2 separate regions of the Homo sapiens genome follow, and region 2 is linked to region 1. A link means that fine-mapping ties the variant in region 1 to the expression of a gene that starts in the linked region. Tissue or cell type: testis. Region 1 holds a variant in brackets; the other region holds the start of a gene. All regions are shown on one strand. Distances are from middle to middle.

Region 1 (17,190 bases):
TCATTTTGTTTGGTTATGCATGAGTAAAAGAATGAATAATTATTGTTTTCTTTAAAAAGAAAATACCTGTTTCTGGTGAAAATGCAACAACTAGAAAAAGACTGAAATTCTTAACTTTCCTAAAGAAACACAATTTCCATTTGAATATTTTAAAAGTTATTCATGAGGGACTAAGAGAGAACTCACCTTCCCTGGATCCACAGGAGACAATTTAATATCCAAATTGCTTCCTTGACAAGCCTTCCGAACATTAATTTTGTCTAGATTTATATACATTGCAAGAGAAGAAGGTTATGTATCTATGCATCATCTCCTCTGTTTTCTGATTCGGTTTAGCAAAAAAGTAGATTAAAGAGCTCTATCTGTTGAACCCAGGAGGCGGAGGTTGCAGTGAGCCGAGATCACACCATTGCACTCCAGCTTGGGTGACAAGAGCAAAACTCCATCTCAAAAAAAAACAAAAAAACAAAACAAACAAAAAAAAAACCTCTATCTGAACCTCGTCAAAAGGGAAAAATAGAACCCCATGTAAGAGACCTACCTAACATGTTGGAGCAATCAACAACGAATGTATTTGATGTCTGGAGGTAATATGCTAAGACAAATATTCTGTGAGTTCATGAGTAATAATCTTAGTAAGCAGATTCAGAAACTAAACTCAGGTAACTGATGGGTCCCTCTGGGGCCCACTGGCCACATGAGACCCATTCAGCTCTGTGCAGGGTGAAAGGCTACCTGGAAAAGATAAATGTGTGTCATACTGCATCTGAAGCAAAAGCCTCAAGAGTAACTTCTTTCCTCAGCTCCATTTCTATTTACTCCACCTAAGGATTAACATAACATTCCCCAAAACACTGGGGAAAAGAAAGGAGGAAGGAAGAAGCAGAACAGTCAAAAGGAAAGGTACCCTCTATCAGACTGCAGGTGATAAGGAGGTCAACCCATGCTACTTTCTGCATGAGCAGAATTTCTTTATCTTGATATTCTCTACGGAATTCTCTTTAGCAACACCCAGAGGCCCTGGCAAGCTTCCTGCTACCATTGAGGGGAAAACCCCAAATACCATCTTTCTTCCTCCAGAGCTGGCTCATGCTCAGCCAGACCTATTTTCCCTACAGAGAAAGCTTTTTTATTAAATGCAGGGTGAACTACAGTGGTTTGCACTCAGTAAACCCAGCATACATTCAATTCTGAAAAATCCGAAAGCCCTTTAAATCATATTACTTAAAAGTTGCAAGATAATTTTTATGTCTTTACAGTAATGAAGAGTTTGTCCGACAAAGGCTAACTGTAACATGCTTCCACAGTAATGATAATAATGGCTCATGGTTGTGCGATACATTAAACACTTTTAAAAATAATATCTTAGTTGAATGTTACGTCTACTTTATGAGGTAGAAAAAGCAAGTATTAAAATAAAAAAATTTTAAAGACAGGACTATTACAGATTATCTGCTTGCAGTTCCCATCTTGCAGAAGAGAAAGCTGTGCCATAATGGTAACAAACGGTGCACAGCATAACCAGTTATCCAGTCTACCCACTCATTCATCCATTCAACAAATATTTATAGAGCTTCTGCTCCGTGCAATGCATCATCCTTTGTGCTAGAAATAAGTCAAGTATAATTATTACTTTCAAGAAGTTCATATTTGAAAAACAATGACAAACTGAGTCTGAACTCAGTTCCACTGAAAAATAAATTAGGAGGGTCTTTAAGCATTAAAGCATCTGCTGAAAAGTCCTGGAGGATGTTAGGAGATTGATTAAAAAAAAAGGGAAGACAACATCGATTCTATATTAAAAGTAAACAATTAAGGGTAAATAAAGGCATGATTAACTCTGGAAGTACTGGGAAATAGATGAAATTATATTAGATCTCACTCTTGAGAAATTACCAGAACTAAGTTTTGATTATATTTTTCTTATTTTTGCTCTGAACTGGTAGCACATTGCTATTACCATCCAGAGAGACACTGTATTGTTTTATATTAGATAGTTTCTCTACTTACAATTAAATCACCCTATCTCATTCGCAGAAAACTAGAGTTTGCATTATATGGTATTAATTTCTTATTATGCAATTTTCCAATAAAATTTCATTATCTAAAACCACTATGCATATTCTTGCTAACATCCACATGATTTCTATAATTTTTTCCCTTTTTTATCTATCATAATCAAACACACCAGTTAAGAATTTGACAATTTAGAAAGAATAACTAAATTGCATCTGATCAAAAATTGCACTTCACACCCCAAGTTATAAAACATAAAGAAGCCAAACCAAAAAAAAGCACTGCAGAATTTTAAATGACAAAGAACAATAGAACTGTTAAAAAATCATAATTTTAGAATTGGACCATATTTTATCATAAATCCCTTTGGTGGAGATATACATATACATATGTGGGTGTGTATACATACATACACACTCTTTTGCATTTGCATTAATCAGCGTATATGTCTTATATTCATCTAACTCTCCAGGGAAATCTGACACTCTGACATAAAATTAAGGATTTAGGTTTAAGATATCTCTGATATTCTTCATTTCCAACCAAATCCATTCACTGATTTAAGTAAATACGCATTGAGTACCTAGTAAGTTGTATATGGTAAACCAAAGTCAAAATTATGAGTTTTCAACAGTCCTATGATTTTTTTCTCTTTTATTTTAAATTTTGCAGTGTCCTTTTGGATCTTGGCTCTTCTAATGTTCTGTGTTGGACTGTGATTCTTAATCAGACAAGATTTTAAACTAGAGGGGTGAGGCCAGCCATAAAACATAACTCTACAGCATACCAAGTGGTAATAAATGTAATGGAAAAAATAAATCAGGATAAGGGATAGGAAGTGATAGGTTACATCTAATTTACTAAGTAAATAATTATATATTTAAATTTTTCCATAAAACTTTTGAATTTTAAAAATTTAATTAGACTAAACATAACAGTACTTGAAAGATTCTTGATCTTTCAGAATAAGTAATAGCAAACATGTATTTGAATGTTTCCTCTTTCCTTTATAGGAACGTAAGCTCCATATGGGTGAGATTTTTGTCTATTCTGTTCATGCTGTATTCTCAACATCTAGAAGTACCAGAAAATAGTACACTCAGGAAGTAGTTATTGAATAAATTTAAATGTGTATATATATTTATATGTAAATATATATATATATGTATGCCATGCTATGTTCTAGGTACTCAGTAAATTCATTTAATCTTCACAATAATTCTATAAAGTAGGTACTATTACGCTCCCTACTTTGCAGATGAAGACACAAAGGCAAGGAGTAGCTAAGAAACTTGCTGTTAAGTGGCAGAAACAAGATTTGAACTCACATGGTAGGCTCTAGAGCCCTCATCCTTTATCCCTCTGCTGTGTTGCCTCTTATATAAGTCGAATACTCTACTTACACGAGAAAATGAAGTGCTCTCCATTTGAATAAGCTCCGTGAAGTTAAAAATTCCCATAAGGGCATTGCTAACAATTCCCATAAGAACAGGAAAACAATTCAATTTCTTGGTATTACACGCAACAGAAAATCTGTAATCCTTGAAAAAAAGTACACAAATATAAGTTATAAATTCTTATAGTAAATATATTTATTGTATACTTTGTATATTACCAGAGTGGAATTAGAATGAGAAGGAGACTATTAATTTTTCTTTGACACTTCTGCCTTCTTTGAATTGGTACAAGAATGCATTATTTTTGTAATTCAAGTGACTTGTTTTGTAAATGAAATGGATTAACATTTACTAACATGAAAAGATGTCAAATATTTATATTTTATGTGACAAAGAAAGTTTCAAGCCTCCTCTAATATGATGCCAATTTAGAAAACATACTTAAGTTTCCTATAGTTCTAAGTATTAGGACGTGGCAAAAAAAACAAAAAAAAACCAAAAAAAAACAGTGCATAGAAGCAAACATACCTTCTGGTCACCAGACACTATGATGGCTCCATTGTAGGAGGGATCATCTGAGCCATTTCTGTTTCTAAAGTCATCTATTTCCAAAACTATATCCTGACACTTCAGTGAATGCACGAGGTCTTCAATATTTGATCCTAACATAGTGGAAGGAAGGCAACAAGAAAAAAAAAAAAAAAGCAAGAAAATCAAAGTCAAAGCTTAAAATAATAATGATTGCCAATCGTGTTAAGAAAAACCCAGAATAGCTTAGTAAAGAGCCTTGCTCTTTAGGAGTACAATACTATTCATTCTGATGCTACCACATTAAGTTCCATTTACTATCTTCAATGTGACGGACTCCTTTATTCTTTTCAGAAATATATTCATTTATCTTATAATTCTCACCAGGTGAAAAGAGTTTATGAAAATAAGATTGCATTTCTCACAGGAAGAAAATTTGCTAGGAGTGACTTTTATAAACTTTACCAGAACCCTGTAATATTTGTAATTATGAATAATACATACAAAATATACCTCATGACCCAGGCTTGTTCTAGTGATCCTGTCAACCTTAAATGGCACTAACCTTGCCATGATATTTAAAGTACTAGTAACCCATTCAAAACATCTTTATGGAATTAAGTTAACTTGATATTTGCCATTGTGCCCATTATTTTTCTTGACTTGATTTCCATCATAGATGGAAAGGAAGTCAAGTTGGTCACAGGGAGAAGTCAAGCTATGATGCAGCCTCCACATCTGAATCAACCACCCCCGCACCAAGGGAGCTCTGGATTTAAAAGGACCCATCAGGGAGAGAATCCACAGATCCTTTGAAAGAGGCGGCTTGCAGCTGCAGGCTCCATGAGACAGCTGAAAAACTGAGTGCCCTCGGTGTGAAAGGGCAATGTGTGTCCCCAAACACACATCCTCACTGGGGAATCCGAAGGTTGAGATCACGGGAGGATTTTACCTTACCTGGAGCTAAGACGAATTTAGAAAGCCAAGCGAAATATAGGGGTAGAGGAAGCAGTGGGAGGAACCCTGTGGGCACTCTCAGCCCCCAGGGAAGCCATTTTTGACTTTGTCTCAGAGGGGTCCTTGGGGAGGGCTGCCAGTGGAATTGGGGAAAGACCACAGGAAGAAGGAAACTTCCAGCTGAACTTTGTAATAATTTTAACCAAATGCATAGTTTCCTGGACAGAATCTTGGGGAAGGAATGATCAGGGAGTGCAGATTCAAGCACAGAAGCCATGGCAGGGGGAAGGCACATAACCGGAGAGCCCTGCTTGCTTTCTCAAAGGGAGTCTTGTAGCATGGGGTGAGTTCTCAGTCCTGCTCACCAGCTGCCTGGAAACAAACTCAGTTCTGTTGTAGGGGCATTGAGACCACTTTGCGGGCTGTGTGGGAACTGAATGAGGCCTGTCACTGCCGGCTTTCCCCTACTTCCCTAGCGACCTGTACGATGCAGCAGAAGCAGCCATAATCTCCCTGGGAACATAACTCCATCGGCCATGCCCCACAGGAGCTGCTGCAAGCCCTGTCCAAGTACAGTCTAAGCTCAGACGTGCCTAACCCTGCCCTCACCTGCTGGTCTTTCTCCACCCGCCCTGGTAAACATAATCTCTTGGAAGTTCTATGGCCCTGACCCACCACCTGAGAAACCTGAATACTTATCCAGGCGACCCTAGGGCAAGCTTGCATCCTCCCTATACTACCATAGCTGATGCTCTCTTGAAAGTGCCACCTCCAGGCTGGAGGCTGACCAACACTGTTCCAGCACACTAAACAAAACTACAACCAAGGACCCTCACAGAGTCCACTTCACTCCCCTGCTACCTCCACCAGAACAGGTGCTGGTACCCACGGCTGCGAGACCTGAAGATGGATCAAAAAATAATAGATGTTGGCATGGATGTGATGAAAAGGGAACACTTTTACACTGTTGGTGGGAATATAAACTAGTAAAACCACTATGGAAAACAGTGTGGAGATTCCTTAAAGAACTAAAAGTAAGTCTACCGATTGATCCAGCAATTCCACTCCTGGGCATCTACTCAGAGGAAAAGAAGTCATATGAAAAAGATACTTGCACACACATTTATAGCAGCACAGTTCACAATTGTGAAAATATGGAACCAGCCCAAGTGCCCATCCATCAACAAGTGGATTAAAAAAGTTATATATATATGTATATGTGTGTGTGTGTGTGTGTGTGTATATATATACACACACACACATACATATATATAACTTTTTAAATACACACACACACACACACACACACACACACACCTTGGAATACTACTAATCCATAAAACGAAATGAAGTAATGACATTTGTAGCAACCTGGATGGAGTTGGAGACCATCATTCTAAGTGAAGGTAACTCAGGAATGGAAAACCAAACATCATATGTTATCACTTATAAGTGGGAGCTAAGCTATGAAGGTGCAAAGGCATAAGAATGATACAATGGATTTTGAGGACTTGGGAAAGGGTGGGACGGGGTTGAGGGATAAAAGACTACACATTGAGTGTAGTGTACACTGCTCAGGTGATGAGTCCACCAAAATCTCAGAAATCACCATTAAAGAACTTATACATGTAACCAAACACCACCTGTTTTCCACAAACCTATTGAAATAAAGATAATACAAAATAAAAAATATTAAAAAAGAAAATTAACCCATCAGTTTCCTTCATTTGAAAATGGAGCAAGCTGGATAGACACCATTTTTGTTTTCAATTGTCTCTCAGGTATGTGCTTTCTAAAGATCTTTGATAATAAAAACTCACACTAAATTTCAGCCCCATTTCTCACCTGTATTATTAACGATTAACAGGCTGGTAAGAGGCGTCTTCGGGATTTGTTCCAGAGAAAGGAAATACATACTGGGTGAAAACTCCCAACAATGAGTTTCACGAGTTACTTTATACATTATCTTCTCTAGAATGATGGGGATAAAAGCAATTCCAAGTACTAGTAACCTAAGTAAAACAAAATTATAACATGAGTCTGAAGCAATTTTCCTCTGGTTATTTAAGTCACAAAGATGCTATATAAGTGCTAACTATGGAAAGTCCACATGCATATGTGGTGTTTAGTTAGATAAAATGAAACATACAGTGACAGTAATCTGAAAATCAGCACAAAAAAATTACATACTTTGTATCACATTGGAAGATATTCAAGGGTAACAGAGCATCAAGAGAAAAGGTGGAATCCAGGGGCAATCCTCTGCAGGTATGCTGGTTTACCAGGAAAACACAGGAAATGATTTTATGAGATAACAGGGGCCACAAATTGCCTGCTTGGGTACTTTTGATGAGAAAGAAGCCCTATTTTACACTGCAGCCTCAAGCTTGCTATGTGCACAATTGCAAGTAAAATTTTAACTTTCTTCAATTGTTAGTTTACAAATATTTTAATTTTCAGGAAACTAAATGCAATATTTAAAACACTATTTTTATATCCTAGAAGTCATCCCACCAACTCAAATTGCAAGTGAAATGCTTCCAAGCAATCTTTGTTTCTCTAATAAGCCATGAGTCCACTCTGCAATGACTACTTTCCCATCAGACTTCATACTCTACCTCCTTCTCCCTATCAGCCATATATTTCATAGAAAAAAAAAATGGAGTCTATAGGACAGAAACTCCTTCATCTTATCGCCGCCAAAAGAAAAGAAAACACATACACAGATTCAGTCATCCTCTCATTCTTTTATTCTGTTGAAGTAGATAATAGATCTTTGCTCCTAACAAAAAGATCAGTCCTTGTCAACATTGCGATGAATCCAAACTCTCCACCCTCCGTCTATCTCTCATTCATTATAAAATCAACTTTCTTCCCGACTTCACATTGCCTTTTAGCTTCTGCTCTTTCTACTCCGCTCCACAGTCAAGCACCGCAAAAGAGTTGTCTACTTTCAGACCTTCTCTTGCTAAAACCTTTAATAACTTCCCTTTTGCCAAATCCAATGGATGCTTTGTTTCTCAACTGTTATTAACCCTCCATATTTTCTAATCTTGGCTTAAACGTAACAATTTCAGTAAGACCAACACCAGCAAACCTATTTAGAATTGTAATGTACCTCCAACTCCTGTCATCCCTCCCTATCCCCTTTTCTACTCTAGTTTGTATAACCTGGCATATAAGTTATTTAGTTTTATATTCAGTATTTTTCATCTTTTCCACCCAACCAGATGTAAACACCATTAGAGTAGGGATCTGTGCCTTTTGTGTTCACTAATATAACCAAAGCTCCTAGAACAATGCCTAGTATACTATAACAGGCTTCAATAAAGATTTGTGATATAATGGAACAAGTTTAAAGGCCTTATCAATTTTGTTCACTACAGTAGTAAAACTGTGCCCCAAAGAGTTAAAGAAATCAATGACTAGCAGAAATTATTGAGTTTGTAGGGTGTCAGATTGAAAGAAGAAAAAAAAAAGAAACAATTTGCTGAAACACTGAAACTCCCTCAGCTTGTAAGATAATAAAACTGGCTGAAATCAGCTGAAACCAATATGGCCAATTACAGTCGGTCCAGAATCATCCTGCCGACTTCACAGCCTGAATTTCCACCATATATTTCATACCAACTGCGCTTGAATTTGCACAAGGGATACATGAGGAGGCATGAAGAGATATCTGTACATGCCTGAGGACTTTCCAGACCTCTCCTTTTCTTCTACCATGCTAATCCCAGGACCCACCCCCTAAACCTTTGCTAATAAAATTACTGCCTTAAAGTCAGCACAGGGAGACAGATTTGAGCTGGTCTCCTGTCTCCTTGTGAGTCAACTAGCAATAAAAACCTTTTCTTTCCTCAAAAATCCAGTGTCACAGTATTGGCTTCTAGCACATGAGGCAGT[C/G]AGGCCCTTTTCCTCAGTAACAGCAGGATAGGTAAACATACAAAAAAACTGTTAAATGAATGAATAAATTAATATATTTACTTTCTTAATATTTGAATGTTTTTTCATATACTGACCAAATAGATATAAAGTAATCTGATACTCACAAACACAAAAGAGCTCTCCTTTCACGCCTTAACTTTAAGAAGCGAAGTGTTGCCACTGCATAGATTTGTCGTCTCCAGAGAGCTGCACTACTGACAGCCTTTCTTGTTTCAGGAAGAGAACAAAGAACCTGTTCCATTTCAGACTCATCTCCAGTATTTCTTGTCACATGTATTTTCTCTTGTTTCCCAATGTCAAAATCTACAATCATGTAATAAAACATTTTAATAGGCTATGTTATCTGAACTTTCTCTTTAAAAACTTTGAAAATGATGTTAGACTATTTGAAACAGCACTTCCAACAAGTTAAGCTACTGATATCCATAATCAAAATTTACGTTAAAAATCTTTCCTTCAAACATATGTAATGGATTCAGTTCCAATGAGACAGTAAATTAATTTTTGAGGATGATTAAGGCTTCCTAACAAGCATTTATTCTTTCATACCAATAACAGTAGCTCTTCACTAATGGATACTTTTGCAGAGCAAGTTTTATGCAGAAGCACAAAGACAAATTTATGTAGCTGAGTTTCCAACAGGCCTCCTCTGTCATCTGGAATTTCCCCTACAGGATTAGTTCAACACTGATGATTGACATCTCAGTAACGAGTTCAAGACATTGTGCTTTCAAATGATGGAAAGTTCATGGAAAGGCCTCCTGTTTGAGTCCCACATATACCACACATTTACTGTATAATTTTGGCTAATCACACAACTTCAAATATCAGTTTTCTCATGGGCAGCTTGATGTTATTATGGGAATTTAAAACAATATAATTCAAGGACTGAGTACAATGGCTGGTATCTAGTAGCCTCCTAAATTCTTTTTTTTCTTTCCAATTTTTATTTTTGGTGCAGGCTTGCTACATGGGTAAACTGTGTGTCATTTAGGTGCAGGCTTGTTACATGAGTAAATTGCGTGTCATGGGGATTTGGGGGTTTGGTGTACAGACAATTTTGTCATCCAGGTAATCAGCATAATACCCACTAGGTCATTTTTCAATTCTCATCCTCCACACTTAAGTAGGCCCTGGTGTCTGTTGTTCTCTTCTTTGTATTCGTGTGTATTCAATGTTTACTTCTCACTTGTAAGTGAGAACATATGGTATTTGGTTTTCTGTTCCTGTGTTAATTTCTTTAGGATAATGGCTTCCAGCTTACTCCATGTTGCTGCAAAGGACATGATCTCATTCTTTATGGTTGCGTGGTATTACATAGTGTACATGTAACACCTTTTCTTTATCCAGTCCACCACTGATGGGCATCTAGGTTGATTCCATGTCTCTGCTATTGTGCATAGTGCTGCAATGAACGTATCTGTATATGTCTTTATGACAGAATGATTTATATACCTTTGGCTATATACTCAGTAATGGGATTGCTGGGTCAAATGATAGTTCTATTTAAAGTTCTTTGAGAAATCTCTAGACTGCTTTCTGCAGTGGCTGAACTAATTTACATTCCCACCAACAGGGCATAATCATTCCCTTTTCTCCACAACCTCATCAGCATCTGTTATTTTTTTACTTTTTAATAATAGCTATTTTGACTGGTGTGAGATGGTATCTCGTGGTTTTGATCTGCATTTCCCTATTCATTCATGATACAGAGCATTTTTGATATGCTTGTTGATTGCATGTATGTATTCTTTTGAGAAGTATCTGTTCATGTCCTTTGTCCATTTTTTAATGGGGTTGTTTTTGGCTTACTGATTTAAGCTCCTTATAGATTCTGGATATTATACCTTTGTTGGGTGCATAGTTTGCAAATATTTTCTCCCATTCTGTATGTTGTCTGTTTACTCTGTTGATAGTTTCTTTTGCTGTGCAGATGCTCTTTAGTTTAATTAGGTCTCACTTGTCAATTTTTCTTTTTGTTACAATTGCTTTTGGAGTCTTCATCATGAAGTCTTTGCCAGGACCAATGTCCAGAATGGTATTTTGTAGGTTTTCTTCTCAGGTTTTTATAGTCTTAGGTTTTACATTTAAGTATTTAATCCATCTTGAGTTTATTTTTGTATAGGGTGAAAGGTAGGGCTCTAGTTTCAATCTTCTGCCTGTGGCTAGCCAGTTATCCCAGCACCATTTATTGAATAGGGAGTCATTTCCCCATTGTTTGTTTTCACTGGCTTTGTTGAAGATCAGATGACTGTAGGTTTGTGGCTTTATTGCTGGGTTCTCTAACTTGTTCCGTTGGTCTATGTATAGTAGCCTCCTAAATTCTTCTAATTTTTATTACAAAGTAAACTAAGGAAATAACATCTTATTTTATTACTTCTTATTAATACATTAATTAGAATTAGTTTATTAGCTAATTAAGAGCACATTTTTATAAGGAATGGCAAGTAAGAGGCAATAGCAGAATTCATCGCTATAGCAGAGAGCTTTTGATAATAAGGAAGAAGTGGTCATTGCAAAGAGATGTGCCTGTCACTGACATGGGAAGCAGACAGATGTTGGAAAGCAATTTGCCTAGCACCAAGGCTGATTATACTCGATATAAAATGATTATAATACTGGACAATGCTAGTATTTTCTATCTAGTGGACAATGCTATTTTCTATCTAATGCATATTATAGGTAGAAATCCACATAAAAATCTACAAATATGAATTAGAACATCATCTTTTTCTCTTCTCTTTTTTTTCTTAATTTTCTGCTAGACACACATTTTTATACCTGGTTCATCAATTGCTGATTTTCCTTCTAGGTTCAAGAATACTTCATTCAGAGATGTCACTGAAACAGCATAATTCCTTATGCCCTGGTCAGAACACTTATCAAGGTCACTGTAAAGATCTAAAAAGCCAATAGTAATAAGTCAACGCAATTAAAATTATCAATGAGTATATTAAAATACTAATTTCTAAATATTACTCAAAATAGATGTCTACAAATGTTTTCATATTAAAGCAATCACAATAATCCAAGGAAACCTTTTCTGTAAGATATTCTCTTGTCATTCAAATCAGTTTTAATATTTTACATTTCCATTTTGTTTCATAAACTTTAAAATTCTTGTATCATTATTGCTGTGTGTGTTTGTATAAGCATGTATCTGTATGTCTATCTAAAAATTTATTAAGTTATACCTTATCCTTTGTATTTTCTAACTTTTCTATACTAACCATTTTATATATATAATAAAATTATTATAATTTTCAAAGACTCTATTGAACTGCTTACATATATTTTAAAAGATAAAGTCTCATTTCATCTGTATTTCTAACAGAAACTGCTATTTCAGAAAAGAGATATTTCAAAGTTTAATTTTGACAAAGAGTGCAAATCGGGGTTTCTATATTCATGGAAATTTTAGTTGCTATAATACGTCCCTGGTAACATAGATCATCATATTGGAAATAGGAACAGATTACTTATGAATAAATATTTTCATTTGTATAAGCTTTAGAACTCGATTCATAGAACAACAGAAAATGCAGTCAGCACAATCGTGAACACTTACATATATTCTATGTGATTACACAGTAAGTTACCTGGAAATTTGTTCGTTTTTTCCAAAGGCAAACTATATACAAGTTTTTCTTCACTTTCTGTTGTTAACTTGGCATCAGGAATGTGCTGCTTAATAAGGGATGTGATTTTTTCTGTGTCACACATTTCATTCCTGTGTAAACTATTATTTCAAAAGAGCCATAAGTCTCTTGAATTCTTTTCCAACACCACCACTCATGAAAAGATAGTTTTCTATTAAACAGCTTATATGTATTACAGGCATATTCTACTTAACTCTAGTAATTGGTTCCTGCAAATCAGATACTCCACTTCAAATTGCTAATTCAACTTCAAAGTGCTAATTGGTAGCCTATTTTGCATTATTTCAAATGGAAAAATTATAGTACATATCAACACCAATTCCTTTAAATGTAACTAAAGCACAGTGACATTTTAGCATACATACACACATACACAAACACACATACACACATGCAAATACATGTGTATAAAAGTTATTTTATGTGTGTGTATATATACATATATAAAACTATCATTATTGTGCTACATGTGTGATATACATAAAAAACAATCATGATAGGATATAAGATACATGAAACATTGCTTCTGAATAACTGGAAAATTCATAAGGTTTTTAATAAACAGTTGCTTTCTATGCATTAAGTGGTTTCTCTTAATGTCAACAACTTCTATTTGCAGAGCTTGTTTGTGAGTATTTGATGCTTTCTAAAATGTTCCCATGTGATATTCTGCCATTCTATCAATTAGATTTGGAATATAACTACAGAAATTTAGGCCAAATTGTTTTGCTAAAAGTAAACAATGGCTTATTGAGGACATAAAGATAATTTTTTTCTATACAAATATTGGCTTAAAAATGTCGTATAGGCCGGGCGCGGTGGCTCATGCCTGTAATCCCAGCACTTTGGGAGGCCAAGGCAGGCAGATCACGAGGTCAGGAGATCGAGGCCATCCTGGCCAACATGGTGAAACCCCATCTCTACTAAAAATACAAAAAATTAGCTGGGCATGGTGGCGCATGCCTGTAATCCCAGCTATTCGGGAGGCTGAGGCAGGAGAATCGCTTTAACCAGGGAGTTGGAGGTTGCAGCCACTGCACTCCAGCCTGGCAACAGAGCGAGACTGTGTCTTCAAAAAAACAAACAAACAAACAAACAAACAAAAAAGTTGTATTAAGAAGTATACTTTGTTTTTTAATTAGCATGCTTAAAACCAAGAGATAACCAAGAAAGGAAATGTTAATGAGGAAGACATTTTGAGCTGTTTATTGCAAAACAGTTTCTACCAGAAGTTAAGTTGCCTTTCTTATATTTCTAAAGGCTTCTACAAAATGTCACCCTCATATTAATATGCTCATTTAAAAATAACTACACCTAGAATACATACCTTAAATGATATCCAATACCCCACTTTCGCTTCAGAAACAAAGATGATCCTGCACATTTCAACTTCCCATTAGACAGAAATACTTTCCTATCTGAGTAGAAAGGAAGATTCAAAAAATTATGTGAAGAGTAATTCCTTATATGGTATATTCTCTACTTTGGATACTAAAACACTGAATGAAATTTGTAATATCAATACAACTGTAATATCATTAAGCCCCTGGGTGCAGTATCATTTCTAATCCCCATGCCTATTGTGAAACAGGCCTCAGAAATTCACTGCATTCCCCATAGCTAATCCAGTGCCTCAAAACTTTCCAAGGATGGCCTGATTCTTCACCTCTTCCTTTGTCCACATACTTTGCCATGTAACTTTGCAGGGTTACACCCCATGTGACCTGTTGTAGCCAATGGCATGTGGAGGCTTGAAATGGGCTTCTGCAAATAAACTGCAAACAAGATTTTCTTCTTTTGAAAACAGGCTATGAAAAATAACTCTCATGTTAAATCCTTAAATAACTAGTTGGAATAAAGAAGCCAAGAATCACCAGCCAAGATGTCAGCCTCATCCATGAATTGGGTACTGAAGAGGATAAGTCGGTCTACTTTATGCTCCTTCAGGAGGCTCCACACTCGGTGTCTTGAAAAGGGATCCAATCCAGCAGTTGGTTCATCTAGCAGCAAAACCTACAGAGGAGGAAACGTATGAAAGCATCTTCCTCTTCACAGTGAGGATCTTCAGAAAGCACCATGAAAACAAGTATGATTTCTAGACTCAAATACAGTCCTCCACCAGATCCCTAACAAGCTTGCATGGTACTTTATTATAAATTTTCCCTCACATTTGGTAATTACAGTAGAAGTTGGACTTTAATAATAGTTGTATATCCTTCAATCTAAATTAATTGTAAAAATATATTTTTTCTCTCACCTGAGGATCTCCTAAGATGGCAATCCCTAGTGTTAGTTTTCTCTTCTGCCCACCACTTAATTTTTTAGCAATAATGTCTTGAATGCTTTGCATGTCTAATTCCATTATAATTCTTTTTACCTATCAAAGAAAACTCTGTGTTAACAATATCAAATATTTTACTTTAAGGAGTTTTTACTCTCTAAAAATGAAAAGGATTTAGTCTAGAACTTCGTTGATTAAGCTTTACCTATCAAAGAGTAGAGTAATAGCTGAACAAAAAAAATATATAGTCAAAAGTAAATTATTTCCAAAGCCATCAATCTTAATGTGTTCCTGTACCTCTTGTTCCACTTCCTTTGGCTGAATCCCTTTTATTTTAGCAAATACCCTGAGGTTTTCTCTCACAGTGAGGAAGTCAAATTGAAAATTGAACTGTGGACAAAATCCAATATTCTTTCTAATTTCTTCCATGTCAGTTATTTCAGAGAGTTGAGTATTATAAATAGTGGCTGATCCTATAAATAGAAATTTAAAAGGCTTTACTGCCAGAATGTTAATTCTATGCAGAGTGATAATATATGTTAGTATTTAGATTTTGTTCAAAAAACTTGTTTTTATTAAAGAAACTTCACATTTTCCAATTGCATAATTAATACATTGAATAATTCAGATTACTGTTAACGTAAATATCTGTGTCCACAGCAATGCAAAATATACATGGAATGTCAAATAATAGTGGAATAGAGATACAAATGTTTTCATGAATTTATGTGCATATGAAATCAATATTTCCTGCTCTAAATTATTCAACTGTGTAACAAGTCCAATTTAGAGAAACATTTTTTACATAATCAAACCAATTTACAACTTGCTTTTTCAGCCAACTTACTTTATAAAACTGTTTTCTCACCTTCTGTAGAAACAGACAATCCACTAAGAATGTTTAGCAGTGTTGATTTACCAGCTCCATTATGCCCAAGTATTGCAGTGATCTGTCCTTCATATATGTCAAAAAATATGCCTGTTTTAGAATAAAAAGTGGAAATTAGATTTTGGATTATATGCAGATGGAATGGACCTTAAAATTGGAAAAGTAAAATATATCTCAGCATTTCATTTCATTGGTATTTTAATACATCCCCTATAAAATTATACATTTAATTGTATAAGTTATGTATTCCTGAAGACAAAGCTTCAATTTGGAGAAATTGGATCAAGACTGGGAATATAAATTTCTACCCTCTTGCTTCCTTCAAATCCTTTGAATGTCAAAGAATCTATACACTTAATATTAAATAATAAAACAAAGACTACTAGAAATAAAAACAAAACGTAGTTTATTTGCTTCCTAGGCAAAGGAAAGAAGTGTGGCTTAAGAAATTGTCTCCCTGAGGCTTGCAGAGCTGGAAACAGAAGGGCTGGGTATAGAGAAAAGGGGAAGAGTTTATTTCATATTCGGAGGGAGGTAGAACTGATAAAGAAAACATTGGTAAAGTATCTCCTGGTACTGGTCATCATTTTGCTTTATATCACAAAAGTGTGGGCATGATATTTAGAAATATCTGCTGGGATCTAAGACATGTCACAGGCATTTTCACATATATGTGCCTAAGGCTTGACAACTTTTTCTTTAATGTTTGAAAACTTAACTCCACCGGAAAATAAGAATTCAGTTAGCATGCTGGAAATTTTAAAAGATTCTCTGAAGACAGAAAACAGAGGGAATTAGATTGTCAGAGCGTCAAAAATCAGGCAAACCACAGGCCAAAATAGACGATGAAGAGTTCTATGAAAGTAAAACCAGTTTCACTAATACTTCGAGCTTAGTTTGATAAAGTCAGGTCAAAGATTATAAACCGGTATAAACAGTGTATTCCTATTGTTGAAAAAATATTTTATATATAAATGTATATATACAAAAAAGATAATATATTATTGGTAATTATCCCTCATGGCAGAAACATATTTTAATTTTTTTGTTTTCTCTTTATTCTCTAATTTTCCACAATAATGATATTTTCACATCACAGAAATGTTTTTGTGTTTTAATTTGAAGCATTATCAAACAATGAAGTTTTTCTTTTTTTTTTTTTTTTTTAGTATTTATTGATCATTCTTGGGTGTTTCTCAGAGAGGGGGATTTGGCAGGGTCATAGGACAATAGTGGAGGGAAGGTCAGCAGATAAACATGTGAACAAGGGTCTCCGGCTTTCCTAGGCAGAGGACCCTGCGGTCTTCCGCAGTGTTTGTGTCCCTGGGTACTTGAGATTAGGGAGTGGTGATGACTCTTAAGGAGCATGCTGCCTTCAAGCATCTGTTTAACAAAGCACATCTTGCACCGCCCTTAATCCATTTAACCCTGAGTGGACACAGCACATGTTTCAGAGAGCAAGGGGTTGGGGGTAAGGCCATAGATTAACCGCATCCCAAGGCAGAAGAATTTTTCTTA
Region 2 (17,190 bases), 43 kb after region 1:
AGGATTTTTAAAGTACTCTACAGAATTGGAGAAAAAAAGAACATATGATGGCAGGGGCAGTGGCTCATGCCTGTAATCCCACCACTTTGGGAGGCCGAGGCGGGTGGATCATTTGAGGTCAGGAGTTCGAGACCAGCCTGACCAACATGGTGAAACCCCATCTCTACTAAAAATACAAAAAAATTAGCCTGTAGTCCCAGCTACTTTGGAGGCTTAGGCAGGAGAATCACTGGATCTCGGGAGGCAGCGGTTCCAGTGAGCCAAGATCGCGCCACTGCACTCCAGCCAGGGTGACAGAGGGAGACTCCATCTCAAAAAAAAAAAAAAGGACATATGAGTAGTTGCCAAAATAATGAGACTCATCCTAAGTTAAAGACTGATGATTAAGTTCAGAGGGAAATGTATATTAATTCTTTACTTGGTTGTATTAATATTCCTATCAGTCATTCCAAACAGGGGATTCCATGAAGTATCAAAAAAAAATTATAATCAGTTTTTTTATAGTTACCTGTGTATTCAGAGTGCTCCTTTATAACTGGGATTCTATATCCCCAATTAAACTTCAGGCGATATGAGAAAGTATCACTAAATATAACTCCCACCATTTCATGGTATTTTTTTGGAAGTTCTATATCCATGGTCTCTTCATCTGGTGTCCCAATGACTGTTCTTCCTACCATGTATGAAAAACATAAATAAATAATCATGTAAACTTATTACTAGAGGACACAAAAACAAAATACAGTTGCTTGTTTTATATAAAATTAGTGGTATTATATATTATTTCTGGATAGCTGCCTCTTAGTAAAAGGCTGAGTGAAACTATTGTTTTAAGTTCAATGCAAATACATGAAAAGACACAAAGGACACATTGTCTTTTAAAAATCTGCAGCATATTGCTTTTAGTGTGATCTCATTTTGGTAAAGAAAACTGAATTTATGTGCCTATGTAAGCATAGAAACATACTCTATATATGACCATGTGCATATTTGCCTTGAAGGATATACACAATTTGAATGAGGGGTAGGGGAGGAGAGGGGGTAGGGGAGGAGAGGAAGTAGTGGTGAAGATGAAAGGAAAAGCTCTCATATTTTTGCTTCATACAAGTTTGTACTATTCAACTTTTTTTAAAGTAGATATTACTTTAGTGACTAAAATAATTTAAGAATTAAAAGGAAAAATATTTAAAGTAAGCAATACAAATACTCAGAATTTGGTGTTTTCTCTTTTTCTGCCAAGATTATAAACTGATATCACATGAAAATAGTACACTAGAGGTAAATTGTATACAAAAAATCAGAGTACAAAAATAAAAAATATAGTCTACCTACAGATTCTCTGAGGTCAAGAACACTCTCTAAGAATTAAGTGTATAGTAATCAGTGCATAAATGAATGAGTTTACAATCTGCAGGAGTAATCCACCCACTAAGTGTTTAATAGATCTATTACTAACAGAAGCTTTGAAAATCACTGGTCCAATTAGTGCCTCCTTTTTCACGTTTATGTATTATGTTCTAAAAATTTTATTAACTTTGTATCTCACTCAGGGTGAAATCTACATTAAGATGAAAAAGCTGTTTATTTTATGCTGTAGCCATACCTTTCAAAACTCCTCATCCTTCCCAATATAGAGTCAGGCGGTGAAACTTTTATGAGGACAGTGCTAACATCACTGATTTTCTCTAGGGGTATAAAAAATACTGTCAAGGCCAAACCATGAATATTTATGCTAAAAAGCAAGAGTTAGATAAATGTAGAATAAGACAGTGAGAGAGGAGCTGTGGTTGGAACAGGCGAGCATGGTAGCTGGAATGAGATATTTTATATAAGAAAGAGACAGAGTCCAGTGGTCCGTGAGACTAAGACAGAAAGTGGCTATTAGCTTACACTGTGCATACAGGAAGAATAGTCCCTGAGGCTTCAGTAAATGCTTCATGAGTTCAGAAAAAATGAGGTAAATGACTACACAAAGGAAGTGAATAGAGACAGATCAGGGCAGAATCAACACTGTGGTCAGGCAGAACATGTAAACAATGCAAGTAAGGGAGGCCCACCAAAGTCAAAGCTCCAGAAACTGCAATGAAGAATTACAAAACAGGGTAAAGCAGCCAGGGATAACAATACCCATTCGAAAGCTTGGATAGGTTAGGCACAGAATATTAGCAACTCACATAAAATAATTAAAATTCAGAGTTTGGAGGTGTCCCTTGGCATGGCAATCCAGACACCAAAAAACTAAATAAAAGTTTCAGAAAGACAAGAAAAAGCAGTGATTAGAGCTGAGACGTTAACAGATTGGATAAAATGTACAAAAGGATGAAATGGCCAATGTTCAGAACCCTGGCAGAATGAGGGCTAACAACAAGAGAAATTTGATAGTAGGCTAAGATTGCTGAAGAAAAGAACATTTTATCCTGATACTTTCCCTATGCAGGAGCAAAGGCCTCTATGGAGAGTCCAGAGACCACAGCTGACCACCAATAGTTACTCCTAATGGCAGTAGAGATATAAAGGATGGTAGGCAAAGGTCTCACATAGTAAGTAGGACTCTCAGGTGTTCTTATTTCTTTATGAGATGCATACATCAAATTAATGCAGCATCCTACATAACATAGAGACATCTATTTTCTGAGTCCAGATATGCAGAAAAAGTCTTATGGGAAAAAAAAAAAAAAAGCCTCACTACTCTAAGATCAAGGGCTGTGAATTTGTTGACTTTCAGTAGCCAATACCTGATTTGATTTTAAATAATTTTAAATGCCCTGAGCTGTACATTTTAACTATTTTTATACACCAAACAGTAATGCTTTTTCAACACCATTGCTAAGCTTGAGTTTGAATTTCAAACACCTTTGATTTATAATTCCTATATACTGGGAACTATATTTATTTCAATCTCAATTGAAAATAATTAAATCCTTAAAATTTTTTGAAACTCTTTAAATTATAGAATACCAACCCAAATATAAAGTTTTTTAAGTTAAGTTTTGGAAAAGTGAAATTTGTATCATCTAAAATGGGTCCAATCTTTTTTTCCTACTGCAACAATATGTTCTAGTATAAAGGGCAAACGGTATGCATATCATTAAAAACAAACAAACAAACAAAAGTAAATCATTTCATCTGTTGCCCACCTACCCTTAGCTTCACACCAACCCCTGTACTGCATATATAATGAGAATCTTTGCCTCAGTTGAGAATCACTGACACACAGGCTAGGTAAGTAAATTCAACCTGCAAAAAGAACTTGAAAATTAAGTCACATAATACTGAAACATTGGTTATTGGACAACACACCTTTCATAAAGGAAGCCAAGGCCATCTTATTCATTATCCTTTGTGTTATGTTACTGACTGGTGTATATGCCACTACCAGGCCAGAGTCATTAAACTGATCCACGCTTCCCAGGACTTTAGGAGGTTGTTCAGGAAAACGGGTAGCTCTGAAGTGTTCCGAAAAGATGCACAAATATAGCCCTAGAAACAATGTTATTGTCCATTCCTCCAGCACACAAAAGAGAAATGAGCCATGTTATAACGTGGTCCAGACCAGTGAGAAACATCCAAACACATTTTTAAGGCAGAATGTATTGCCATTGAGCATGACTTCATTTCAGTCTGTAATTTTTTTCTGCCCAAATTAATATCTACCTTTTAAAGAAAAAAACACCCTTTCAAAAATACACAACTTTTGAGATAATATCAACAATTGCAATCAATCTTAACCCAGTGATTTAGCACCCCTATTAGTGGGACTGCCATTGATTTTATGCCCTCATATTTGAAGCAACGTAAGTATATGGCATCACACAGAAGATACTCTTGCCAAAAATATTTAACCAGAATTGGATCCTGCTTTTAGATCCAGCTCACTGCTTACAAAAAATATAGATGATAAAGGGATGACTTAAATGACAGCATGGAGAGGCAATCAGATAAAAAGAGAACATGGAATATTCAACAGGATAACTAGTTTTGTCTCATTGGTTCCTGAACAAATCAACCTTAAAAGACATTTTGGGGGAAATTTGGAAAATTGAATTTGGCCATGGAACTAGATGATATGGAATTATTTTTAATTTTGTGTAGTGGGATAGTGGTAATGTAGGGAACCAAGTTCTTAATTTTTTGAGATACTAAAATATTTAGCCATTACATATATTTTAGGGAAGAAGAGGAGACAGAGAGATGAAGCAAAGATGGCAAGATGTTAACAGCTGTCAAATCTGGATGGTGGATGTATAGGTGTTCATTGTACCAATATTTTCACATTTCTGGATTGACATACTTTTTTTAAATTCTAGTGAGTAATAAATATAGATGTATCCTTCTTCAATATACGAAGCAAAATATTTGATCGAACTGCTTCGGAAGCTATTGCAGAAATTTAAAAGGATGATATAAATCCTGTTAGCTCCCACTGAAATGGTACTGACTATTTCTGAACAGACTGCAATCTCTACATGGTCAAGGCAGATCCAGTTATATCTCATAGTAACACAAAGCAATGTCTTAATATTCATGTCAGCATACAAGAAACTCAACAGAATGCAAAGGTATTGACAATCTGTGATCTTATTCCATGAAACCATTCTATGTTTACAAAAAGCACGGCTTTGAAGAGATTCCAAAAAAGTTTGCAGATTTTTACTCATAGATATTTTCCCAGCCTTACCAAATAACATGACATTAATCGAAATGTCCCCAAATAGTATCAGGGTTTGCCCACGTAAAAATCTATTTTATTTTGCCTAGCTTATCTTTCCCCTGGCTGTCCCTGCCCCCAACACAGAAGTTAGCTAAGAGTAAATCAGAATGACTCTGAGATTTGAATGCATTAATTATGTGGAAAATGGCTGGTTCTATTCTGCAAAAGATTATTTTTCAGGAGCTGTCAGATGAGCTTTTTAGTTAATTTCACATTTGACACAAATATTATCCTATTTTGCAAAATATATATCGTTTTGCAGTATTTAGAATCTCAAATCAACTAGCCAGTATGATAATTAAAAATCAGAATTTATAAACAAGAAAAGTAATAAAAATGGCATAATACTATATGGTGGATTTTCATTTATTAATTATGGATATATATATATATATATAGTGAATCATACCAATAAACTCTCTTTTTATTCTCCATTTTTTAAGAAAATTCTTGTACAGAAGAGCCTGAATTTGTTGACGCACGCTTATCTCTTTTTTAACCATTTTGTCCTGTTCATTAACAGGGTAAAGTAAATATTGCAGAGCAATAGCTAGGGGAAAAAAGAAAAAAAAAAAGTTCAGTTACAGAAAGCCTTTGAACATTTTGAAAGCATAATTTTCAGATGTGCCAACTAAATGCCTTATATGACACTGTAGCAACATATTCAATCAGGATTTTAAAAAAGAATATAAAGTATTAGTAATTATAAAATGTCTTCTCAGTTGTTATTTCTCTCCAGGCTTTTATGGCTATGAGGGAGATAAAGGAGATAGTATATAAGACCTTTCTCCTTTTGTCTCAGAAGTCACTTTTTTTCCATGAAATCTTAACATTACATCCACCTAAAGTAAATCCCTCAATAAGATCTTAGTAATTTTTAGAATCCAAAAAACACTTTCTCTTTACTTGTTAAGAAAAAGAAGTTTAACAGGAAGAAACCACTTTGCAGTTCCTTGTCAGTCAGCAATTTGACCACAAGCTGTCTTATTTTGAATTGCACATCTGGGCACATGTATTTGATATCTTGTTAACCACTGGGCAAAGCAAAGTCGAAAACATTACGGCCATTCTTAGAATCCCAAAAAGCTAATTCCTCTTTTTTAAATCTCCATTTATGAAGTAAATATGTAAGATACATACAGATTAAAACCAAAAATATTGGCTAATATGACTAGAGTAATTGATTTGTAATAATGATCCTTATTCTTTGTTTTCAATTTGAAAATCCAGAGCTGATCATTTGGTGTCACAACTATGACTACTGAAGTCCATTTGAATAAATGTTGATATTATATACAAATTACAATGTTCAGAGAGAACTTGCTATATTTCCCCTTTTTCATAAAATAAAAGGCAAAGCCAGCAAAACCCAATATAATCTCTAAATTCTAACTTAAGAAAGTAGAAACATTAAAACACCAATCTTCACTTTATGGATACAGAGGTCTACTTAAACAGCTCCATAAGCAAACCACAAAAACATTTTAAAAGAACAAAAGAACACAGAAAAAAGGAACTTGCCCTAATGCTCACACATTCTAAAGAAGTAAAACCATACAAATTCTCAAAAGGATATTCAAAGCAGTGTCAGAGAGAGAATTTATTGTCTGATAATATTTATATACACCTCTGAATCTAGCCATCTTTCATTTATCACACTAAAATGTTACATAAGTTTTTAAAATAAAATAACTCACTAGTACTATAACATAAAGCATAAAATAATTTAGAGCATCTGAATAATATAATTTTAAAAATTTCAATCAATATGTTTGGCTTTGGCTATATACTTTATATCTTTAAAACCTTATGCAAAGTGAAAATGTAAAACAAATTTTAACTTACAGTTAAGAAAATAAGAGAGAAGTATTTGAAGCACTTGGATCCACTGGTCTCTTTTTGTCCAAGAAAACAATGAAGAATCCTTCAAGGACTCCTCTACAAATGGTTGCCTCTTTTAAAACTGTTTTGATTCAGCTTGGCTTCTGAAAAGCCATGGTCTGTGTGTAGAACATGCCAACAAATTCTGTTGGTTTTTTCCCTATGTTTTTCTCCTTGTCCAGTTACTCTTCAGAGAGTGTAATGAATTGTTGGCTGAGCGCATCATTGGTATTTGTTTATTGCTCTTTTTGGCATACACACAAAAAAAGAGATCAAATTCAAAAAGAAAAACCCACATATTTACAATTGCATGGATAACTACATATTTACAATTGCATGACTTTTAATAATTAAAAATTTGACAGCCAAGCTAAAAAAGGAGCAAATTAAAGATAAAGTTGAACAGAGAGAGAGAAAATGAGGATTGCTCATCTCAGAAATCTGAATCATTCCAATGAGAAAGTTTCATCTGAAAGTTAACTGCATTTCAGTTAAATGGTTCCTTGTATTCACTAATTCCTATGTACTAGAAAGTGTTCTAAGGGTTTAAATGAATTCTCCCATTTGATACTCAAAGCAAACCTACAAAGTTGGTACTCTACTCACATCCATTAAACAAATTTGAAAGGTGGGGCTAACAGGTGAAGTTATTTGCAGATGTTTAAATAAGTGTGAAGCCAACAGATGAGTCCAGAATAGTATCTGGACTCCAAGATCCCTCACTCTTAACTACCACTATGAAAATGGTGCTAATCAAGACAATGATATCTGATACCCATTTAAAAAGTGTAGTGGTATAGACTAGATGGCATAACTTTAATGATTTTGTTACTTTTTTTTCAGCTACAACTAAATTGGATATTCTCAGAATGGCAAATAATGCCTCTTTATCAACCCTGAAAATCTTTTTATGTGATTTTAACTATAATAATACACTTCTTGGTATGCATACAGAAGCTAATGCCCATTCATGAAAGTGACAGAGACAGAAAGGGTAAAGGACTCAGAGACTCTTCAAATGATTACCATTTTCATTAGGAATATGGAAATAAATGGTTCCTTTAATTGTAAATGTCACTAACAACAAAGGAAGCATACTTTAATTGCTTTCCTTTGTTGTTAGTGACATTTCTCTTCCTATTCAGGCAAAATCATTACTAGAAGTAAAAGTTCATGAAATAGAAAACATGAAACTTAACCTGGTTCCGATCCCAGACATTAATGGTAATATTCACTTAAATGGGTGGGGAAAACAATTAAAATCATACTATAATACAGACATACACCCTTCTTAATCACCAAATTTTTAAAATATTTTTTATTTCCATAATTGCTGTGATTTGAATGTCTCCTCTAAAATTCATGTTAAAATTTAATTACCAATGAAACAGCATTGAGAAGTGTAGCCTTTAGAAGTGGTGATTAGGTCATGAGGGCTCCACCCTCATAAATGGATTAACACTATTATCTTGGGAATGGGCTCCTGATAAAAGGATGAGTTAGGCCCAATTCTCTCTCTCTCTGTCTCATGCACATGCTTCCACCTTTCACCTTTCCACTGTGGGATGACCCTCACCAGATATCAGTGCCATGCTCTTGGACTTCTCGGCTTCCAGAACTGTGAGAAATAAGTTTCTTTTCTTTATAAATTACCCAGTCTGCTGGGTACAACTAAATCTGTGGTGTTCTGTTATAGCAATAAAAAACAAGCTAAGACAATAATTTTAGGGATTTCAATCTCCAATACGGTACAGTTGGGAGTCTGAGACCTGCATTGCAGACTTGTCACTCATTGTCTGTGTCCCTTGGAGAGGTCATATAAAATCCTCAGGTCTCTGTTACACATTTATAATAGGATTTGGACCCTTTTCATTCTTAGCCTTTACATATTTATAATTATACAGTTCTGCTACAGAGTCAGAATGTTGAAATACTCCAGATTTAGGCTTATGCACATCCACGTTACATAATACCAACTAGCACCTCCTCATCAAACTCTTCCTTACTCTTGAGTCCTTGACCCCTGAAAGCACGATGGCTTTCAGCAGGTAAATGTACTATATTAATGAACAATCAGAGGCAATTTGGCAGAAGTTTTCCTCCACATACCTCTATTTCATTCTAATTTCCCAGAGGAAACTCAGCCAATTTTTTCTAAACTCAACACCACTGCAGAATCCTTCGATCAAATTCTATTACCTAATCTAAAAATCTAGCTCTCTTGGTTATCTCTTTTTATTTTATTGTTAATTTCTATTACAATCTCTTCTCTCCTTCCATCTTTCTTTACATATGACTGGCAATTACATATGAGAAAATATTGTCACTGCCAGCTTTCTTAAGCTACCTTATCTTATAAAATATCTTATAAACTAGCTCATCTTCTTACATTCCCTGCCCAAATTTCCATTGTATTAGTTTCCTAGGGCTGCCATAACAAAGTACCACAAACTGGGTACCTTAGAAATTGATTTGCTCAAAGTGTCAGAGTCCGGAAGTCCAAAAATCATTGTCCTATCTGAAAAGCCATGCTCTCTCTCCCAGCTTCTGGTGATTGCCAGCAACCCTTGTCATTCCTTGACTTGCAGATACGTAACTCTAATATCTGTGTTGTCATTACGTGGCATTCTCTCTTCTATGTGCCTGTGTCTTCAAATGGCATTCTCCTGTGTATTTGTCTCTTTCATTCTACTAATTTTGAGTTAGTTTGCTCCTGTTATTCTAGTTTCTTGAGTTGCCATGTTAGGTTATTTGAGATCTTTCTACTTTTTTGATGTAGGCAAGTATTGCTATAAACTTCCCTCTTAAAACTGCTTTTGCTGTATCCCTTTGGTTCTAGTATATCATGTTCCCCCTTTTTGACTCAAGAATGTTCTAAATATTTTCCTTTTTAATTGCTCCATTGACCCATTAGTGGCTCATGAGGATGTTGTTTAATGTCCGTGTATTTGTACCATTTCCAATGTTCCTCCTGTTATTGATTTCTAGTTTTATTCCATTGTGGTCAGAAAAGCTACTTGATGTAATTTTGATTCTTTTAAACTTGATGAGACTTGTTCTGTGGCCTAACATATGACCTTTCCTGGAGAATATTCCATGTGCTGTTGAGAAGAATGTGTATTCTGCAGCTGTTGGACAGAATGTTTTATAAATGTCTGTTATATCCATCTGGTCTAATATGTGGTTTAATTATAATGTTTCTTTGGGATTTTCTGTCTGGATGATCTGTCTATTCCAGTTCCTTACAATTATTTATTGCAGTATATTTGTCCTTTTAGATCTATTTATATTTGCTTTATATATTTCGGTACTCTTATGTTGAGTACATATGTATTTATAATTATTATATCCTGTTGCTGTACTGGCCTCTTTATCATTATATAATGGCTTTATCTCATTTTAAAGTTTTGGTTATTTTATCAGATATAAGTATAGCTACTCCTACTCTTTTTTTTGTTTCTATGTGCATAAAATATCTTTTTCCATCTCTTCATTTTCAATCTATGTGTCTCTTTACAAGTGTAGTGAGTCTTTTGTAGGCAGCAGATAGTTGGGTCTTGTTTTTTATTCAATCAGCCACTTTATGTCTTTTGATTGAAGAATGTATTTCATTTATATTCAAGTTAATTATTGATAGATGAGGGCTTACTGCTGCCATTTTGATACCTGTTTTCTAGTTGTTTTGTGGACCCTTTCTTCTCTTACAATCTTCCTTTGTGTGTAAATGATTTTCTCTAGTAGTGTTTTGATTTCTTGCTTTGTATTTTTAATATATCTATTATAGGTTTTTGCTTTGTGGTTACCGTAAGGCTGACAAAAAAACATCTAACAAGTTATTTTAAAATAACTTAACTTTGATAGCAAAGGAAAAATAAAAAAACTGTACACTTAATTCCATTCTCCTCCCACATTTTGAATTTTTGATGTCACAATTTTTAAATTTTACATTTTATATTGCCTATCTCTTAGCAAATAATTTATTATTTTTAATAGTTTTGACTTTTATTCTTCATACTAACGATATAAGTGGTTTATGCTCCACAATTACAGTATTAGAATAACAATCATGTTAGCATTCTTCTCTTTAGATTAGAACTCCCTTCAGCATTTCTTATAGGACAGGTCTGATAGTAATGAATTCCCCTCAGCTTTTGTGTGTCTAGTAAAGTCTTTATCTCTCCTTCATTTCTGAAGGACAGCTTTGCTGGATACAGTATTCATGGTTGGCAGTTTTATTTTCCTTCAGTACTCTGAATACATCATGTTCCACTCCATCCTGGCCTGTAAGGTTTCTGCTGGAAAAGTCTCTTGTCAGGTGTATTGGAGTTTCCTTATATGCTATTTGCTTCTTTTATTTCTCTATTTTCAGGGTCCTCTATTTGTCTTTGACCTTCCAAAGTTTGATTATAATATATCTTGGGGTATTCTTATTTGGGTTGAATCTGATTGATTAGCTGTGATCTTCCAGTTCCTGTATATTTATATCTTTCTCCAGGTTTGGAAAGTCCTATTATTATTTCTTTGAATAACCTTCACACTGCTTTGTCTTTCTCAACTCTCTCTTTAACTCCAACAACTGGAATATTTTCTCTTTTAATGTTGTTCCATCAATTCCATAAGCCTTCTTCACTGTCTTTTCATTCTTTTTTTTACCTCCTCTGATTATTTCCAAACAGCCTGTCTTTGAGTTCCCTAATGTTTTTATTCTATTTGATCAGTTCTGCTCTTGATGGTCTCTATTTCATTTTTCATTATGCTCCCTGTATTTTTCAACTCCGGCATGTTTGTGGTTTTTTTAATTATTATTTCAATCTTCATTAAATTATCTGATAAATTTCTGAATTGTTTTTCTGTATATTCTTGAAGTTCATTGATCTTCCTTAAAACAGCTATTTTACATTTTTTGTCTGAAAGATCACAATCCCCATCACTTTAGGGCCAGTCCCTGGTGCCTCATTTTGTCCAGTTGGTAAGGTCATATTTTCCTAAATGTTCTTGATGCTTGTGGATGTGTGACAATGTCTGCACATTGACGGATTAGGCATTTATTCTAGTTTCCCCAATCTGGCTTTGTTTATATCCATTCTTCTTCAGGAGATCTTCCACAGACTCTAAGGAGACTGACTGTTGTCTTCCCTGAGCCCAAGACCAGTACAGCTGTCTCAGCATTAGAGCATTAAAGGGCATGCTAAGCCCAGGTTTGCTATGAGTCTTGGGAGAGCTCTGAGATTTATGCAGCTTTCTAGCCCAGATAGACCTGGGGAAGACCAAAGAAGGGTACCCAGGTTGTATGAAAAATCTGGCCAGAAACCTAAACCCAGAAGACTGTTCTGGTAGCTAAGATGGATGTCCATCTCCTACAGTCCCTGGACAGGTGAGGTAGTTCATTGATTGTAGCAGGTGAGGCCAGGGCTGAGACTGGGGACCCTTGGATCTCCTGCAGAAGGCAGCTGGCAAGCCTATCTTATTGGCTCAGATGAGTGTGCATCTCCCAGCAAGTCTCTGCACAGATGGGCTAGTTCCCTGACTGCAGAGGGGTCAGAACTGAGGCTGGCTTCCCTCAGGATCTATTATGGGACAGAGGCTGGAGAGCACAACATGGAAGTTCAGACTCCCAGGATGCAAGACATGGGCGAGTCTCACTCTAGGTCCTTGTGTGAGCAGTTCTGAGCTGGGACTTTAGCAGAGAAGGGCTGAAGTCAAGTCACAGGGCAACTTTCAGATTCATTGTCAGCAGTCAGAGGAGGCTCTCTGTTGAGGCACTAGTGTACATGATTCTTTCTGGACTCCTTGGCAGATGGTTTTGGTTGTAGGCTCAAGACCAAATGAGTTTTTAGCCAAGCTCCTTGGGGAATGGAACCATTTCCAGGCTTGAACCCAGAAGCAAAATCAGCAGATCAGCCACTAGGGTGCTAGTCTGCACTCTCAAAACAACCTCTAGGTCTTGGGATCCACTGGGGTTTCACAATCTTATACCTGAATCCTGAGGCTCCTGCACAGAGACTTTGGTCTGTGGTGGTGCAGAATTATTGTTGTTATGGGGGGTGGCGGGTAATGAGTGGGTTACCTTCTATTATGTCATCTTGCTGGCATCACTCTCCCCAGTTAATTTTGATGCTGCTGGTCAATGAATTTTTTGCTCTACAAAATTTGCATAGAGCAATGAAACAATGGCGTTCACAGAGTAAACCTTCAATTAATCTTAATTACCATTTTTAATGCTTAGTTCTTATACGTCAAGTCTCTTCTAACAATTGGAATTGTTTTACTTCTTAAATATTCCAAATAAAATGCCACTTGTTTTTTGCTCATCTTGATGCTTTCTCCCAGTGGGAATTATCAATTAAATTCTTAAGTAATGATTTGTTTAAGGAAAAAAATTAACTAATTTTTCTGAAGGATGTGACTATCACTGGTTTTCCCTTTTGAAGCAAAAGAAATGAGAAGTAAAAAATTAGATTTGAGACTATGGTTACATCTTTATTTAAAAAGACGATAAACAACACCATTTCTGGAGGTTTCCTTTAACCATCTCTGCCCATCTCCCTCCAAGTTATCCCAGTTATCAATAAAATTTACTTTCAATATTAGAGATAACTAGATTCTGTGCCATTTGGAGAGTGCCTGAAACGTTTCCTATTTTGTGGCTCCTCAAAGAGACCAAAGGAGGGATTTATAACCGGTGATTACAATCTAACTTCAGGTTCTTGTCCTGTCCTATCTAAGAACCATTCCTGTCCTTTTCAACCTCTAGCTGTTCTGCCTTCTTTAAGTTTGTTGAATGGCTAGGAGTATCCTCTGGCTCACCCCTCTTACTTTGTTCTAACCTCTTGAACTCTATTACTGCCTCACCATTTCTCAAATGAACTAGCACTTGGGTGACTCTGGCTCAGAAGAGTTCTGCTCTGGCTTCTTAGTTCATTCAGTTCTGGCTTCTTAGACTGCCTTGCTGTCACTGCCACTACTCAAGCGGCCTTACCCCACCCCTTTCTGGGACCAGAAAGGTATCCCTTTGGCACAAGCCTCTGCTGCCATCTGGTGGTCAGAGTTTCACTCTTTTTCTGTCCCATTTCTACTAGGCACCCACCCACACCTTGCATTGTGCTGCTTCCACCTGGCAGGATTAGAAACTGTATCTCTCATGGTTACTGAGATTTAAAAAAAAGAAAACAAAAAAAACAAAAACAAAACCTTAATTTTAAAGTTAGAGATGCAATACTTTTAAATAATCTTGACACTGTCACATTTCAGTGTAAAATTCATTGTCCCCCAGCACAGTTACAACTCTGAATTTAAATTGTACATTGTAAATTCTTTTGAGCTTTAACTAGGCAAAAGAAAACTTCCAGTGGCTTTCTATACAATTCAGTTCTCAACTTTTGTCTCAGTTGTCTGCTGTATAGGTTTTGTATCCTCAGCTGCATGGGAATAACCATGAGGACAAAGATAAGATCCTGGGTTTGCATCTTACAATACCTATATATATATGGCCAAGTCAAATAGTAGTAGGATTTTTTGAAAAGATTCTTTCTTTGAACTTCAAAATGTAAGCAAAGCTATTCAAACTTGTGGATCGGCCACACTGTCTTTATAAACAGTTTATTTTTATCCAGGGCACCTACTTCTAATATTTATAATGCAGGCTTGTAAATCCCCCCTGCCCAAAGTGAGTAGTCCCAAATTGGGAACCCCATTGAGAAATGACTTAAGAATAGCAAATAAGTAACTTCACATGTAAGAAGATAGTTCACATAATATTCAAAGACAACCTAAGATTAACTGAAAACAGCACTGAAAGAAGACATGCATTCAAATATGCACAAAGACCTTGAGAATAAGTCTGCAGACAGAGTCTATGAAACTGATAGAATGTATTTATTACAAGATTAGAATCGAAATTTTCTCCCTACTACCTCAATCTGAGTGAACCAGAATCAAGAATCTACCTCCTTTCAGCACTGAGTATGAAACATTACTTGTGTATGGAAAAACTACAGAAAATAATTAAAACAAACTTTTCCACTGACGCCTTTGGATAAATGAATCAATTTTCAACCCAAATCAATGCATTAAATCAGTATTTTCAAATGGGAGTAATTTTGTCTTCCTCCCCCTACCCCCACCCCAACCCTCCCTCAGGAAATATTTGGCAAAGTGTGGAGACATTTTTGGTCTTGGGAGAGTGTGCTACTGGCATCTGGTGGGAAGAGGCTAAGAATGTTACAAATACCCTGTAACACACAGGACAGTCTCTCACAACGAAAAATTATCCAGCCCAAAATGTCAATAGTACCAAGGTTAAGATACCCTGTATTAAACAATAGCAAATCACTTCAGTGCAAAATAAGTTTCCTAAGGAGAAATCCAGTATATTTTGGATAGTGAAGAGGAAATGGCAAAAGTTATTATTTTCTGGTCAAATATTAATGGCATGGGATTTTGATATACTCCTTCTGTAGCACAATGTCTAACCAAGGCTTCCAATATACTAGCCACTTCTTACTCATTTAATTCATGATGTCATCAATGGAGTCGACAAGTCTTACGTTCTATGAAATGACCAGCTGATCCAGGTCTCTTTTGGAATTTATTGGCAGAGAGAAAGAAAACCCTAAACGTAGCCTTAGGGCAGAGCAAAATGTATACTTTTGTACATTCCAGATCAATGCAAAATGTTTCTGATTGGAATGGAAAATGGGCCATTTGCCAAATCAGTGGCTGTATACCACATGACAGAAGCTCTTCTTAATCAGCTCTGGCAAAGATAGCACATCTGGTTAATCTACTCAACTGAAGCCAACAGTTGGCTGAATTTGCTCTAGACTAATATCCTCCTCTAGAACTGGATTTTTGCAGGACCAAGATTAGTATATTTAACACGGAAATATTATAAAGACCATCCCCCTCCCACTTGCATCTTTAGGTCTTTAAGGGTGGCACTAACTTCTTCCATTCCTTTCCCATTCCCTCTCCCAAAATGAAATGTTTTTATTTCCTATCTTGACTGCGGCTAGTACAGTTTTCTCACTGTAATTTCCCCAAAATTCATGTCCTTCCTAAAAGCCTCAGTAGGTGACTGTATTTAGAAAAAAGATCTTTGCAGATGTAAAAAGACAAGGTAATATTGGAGTAGGGTGGGCCCTAAATTCAAAATGACTGGCAACCTTTGAAGAAGACACAAGACATTCACAGGGAAGACAGCTATGTGACAAGATTGGAGATAAGCATCTGCAAGCTAAGGAACATGAAGAATTTCCAGCAACTGGCCGGGCACAGTGGCTCACACCTGTAATCCTAGCACTTTGGGAGGCCAAGGTGGGTGGATTATGAGGTCAGGAGTTTGAGACCAGCCTGGCCAATATGGTGAAACTCTGTCTCTACTAAAAAATACAAAAATTAGATGGGCATGGTGGCAGGCACCTGTAATCCCAGCTACTCGGGAGGCTGAGGCAAGAGAATCGCTTGAACCCGGGAGGCAGAGGTTGCAGTGAGCTGAGATCACGCCATTGCACTCCAGCTTGGGCAACAGAGTGAGACTCTGTCAAAAAAAAAAAAAAAAATTTCCAGCAACTACCAGAAGCTAGAAAAGAGGCATGGAACTGATTCTCCCTCTGAGTATCCAAAAATGAACCAACCCTGCTGACATCTTGATTTTAGACTTTTGGCCTCTAGAACTGTAAGAGAATAAGCTTCTGTTTTTTTAAGCCACTCAATTTGTGGTACTATGTTACAGCAGCCCTAGAAAACTAGTATACACACTATGATAGTTCTTACCCCATAGGTCAAGAAAACAATGGGGGTTATGCCAACTCCCATGTATATCTATTCCAATTACAAATCAGGGACTAGAGACATGACAGATAGGTCTACAGACTAGTGGATTCTCTATGAACTAGCTCTAGGCTAGGATTTTAGTTATTATCTAGAACTCAAATGCCTCTTACTCTGTCAGAGAGGGCATGATGATACTTTACTTTGAGTCTTTGGACTTGTGTCAACTTTGACCCTGTGGTAAACAGGCCTTAAAATGATTGGGCATTCTGTTTTCTCCAGTATATAATTACCTGAGTTAAAGGCTATAGATTACTTTGGAGGAGGTCTGAGGAAACCAATACCATATATCATTTGCAGGGTCCCTCCTCCTAGGGACCCAACTTCTCTTTCAATTGGTTGTGGGTACAAAAACTGGCTCAGATCCAGAAACCAGAGAGGACTCATGACCTTCTGTTGAGGCAATTGTCTTCAACCTTCTGATCACCCATCATTGATTTAATTGTAAAGAATGAGTACTCCATTGATGATCCATTCATTTGGCCCCTACAGATGCAATGTTCTATTAAATATCTCCATAACTGTGGATCACTGTCCCCATCCCCCACAGCCTAGCTGTTGTCAAAGATAACATGGCCTAAAAACTAAAGCAGTGAAAACAAATTTTATTTGGTAACTACTGACAGTAGGGGAAAGAGCTGAGCTGCCTTCTGATCTGTACAGAGGTGATTGGGGTGTTTAAAAAGGAGAGTGGGAGTAGGGAGGTTGTAGGGGCTCAGCAGAGTCAGAGAAATAGAAAAGTACAAAGGGTTGGTCAGTGTGAATGT

Alleles and levels. Alleles are on the strand shown, and positions count from the first base shown. SD is a standard deviation of normalised expression in the study named.
With allele G in place of C in region 1, the expression in testis of the gene that starts at base 6,800 in region 2 is lower (moderate effect, 0.58 SD a copy in GTEx).

The links. PIP is the estimated chance that this variant, and not a neighbour inherited with it, causes the effect.
Region 2: ABCA10 starts here. The variant in region 1 is fine-mapped to the expression of ABCA10 in testis (GTEx, PIP above 0.99).

Annotation. Positions count from the first base shown.
Region 1 is chr17:69,178,734-69,195,923 of GRCh38, forward strand. ABCA10 (ATP binding cassette subfamily A member 10) reads right to left here. Exons shown (of 39, transcript NM_001377321.1): 12 at 15,652-15,762; 13 at 15,081-15,256; 14 at 14,760-14,879; 15 at 14,377-14,515; 16 at 13,830-13,920; 17 at 12,443-12,582; 18 at 11,625-11,744; 19 at 8,948-9,146; 20 at 6,744-6,910; 21 at 3,942-4,075; 22 at 3,420-3,557. Among named protein-coding and RNA genes, the nearest start is that of ABCA10, 41 kb to the right of the region's middle. RefSeq lists a silencer at 941-1,141. The variant C/G (reference allele first, on the strand shown) is at 8,802.
Region 2 is chr17:69,222,025-69,239,214 of GRCh38, forward strand. ABCA10 (ATP binding cassette subfamily A member 10) reads right to left here and starts at 6,800. Exons shown (of 39, transcript NM_001377321.1): 1 at 6,557-6,800; 2 at 5,121-5,261; 3 at 3,301-3,505; 4 at 509-673. The coding sequence starts at 3,334. It overlaps PRO1804 (a long non-coding RNA gene), which reads right to left and starts at 12,988. Exons shown (of 1, transcript NR_130736.1): 1 at 10,951-12,988. RefSeq lists a silencer at 10,720-10,920.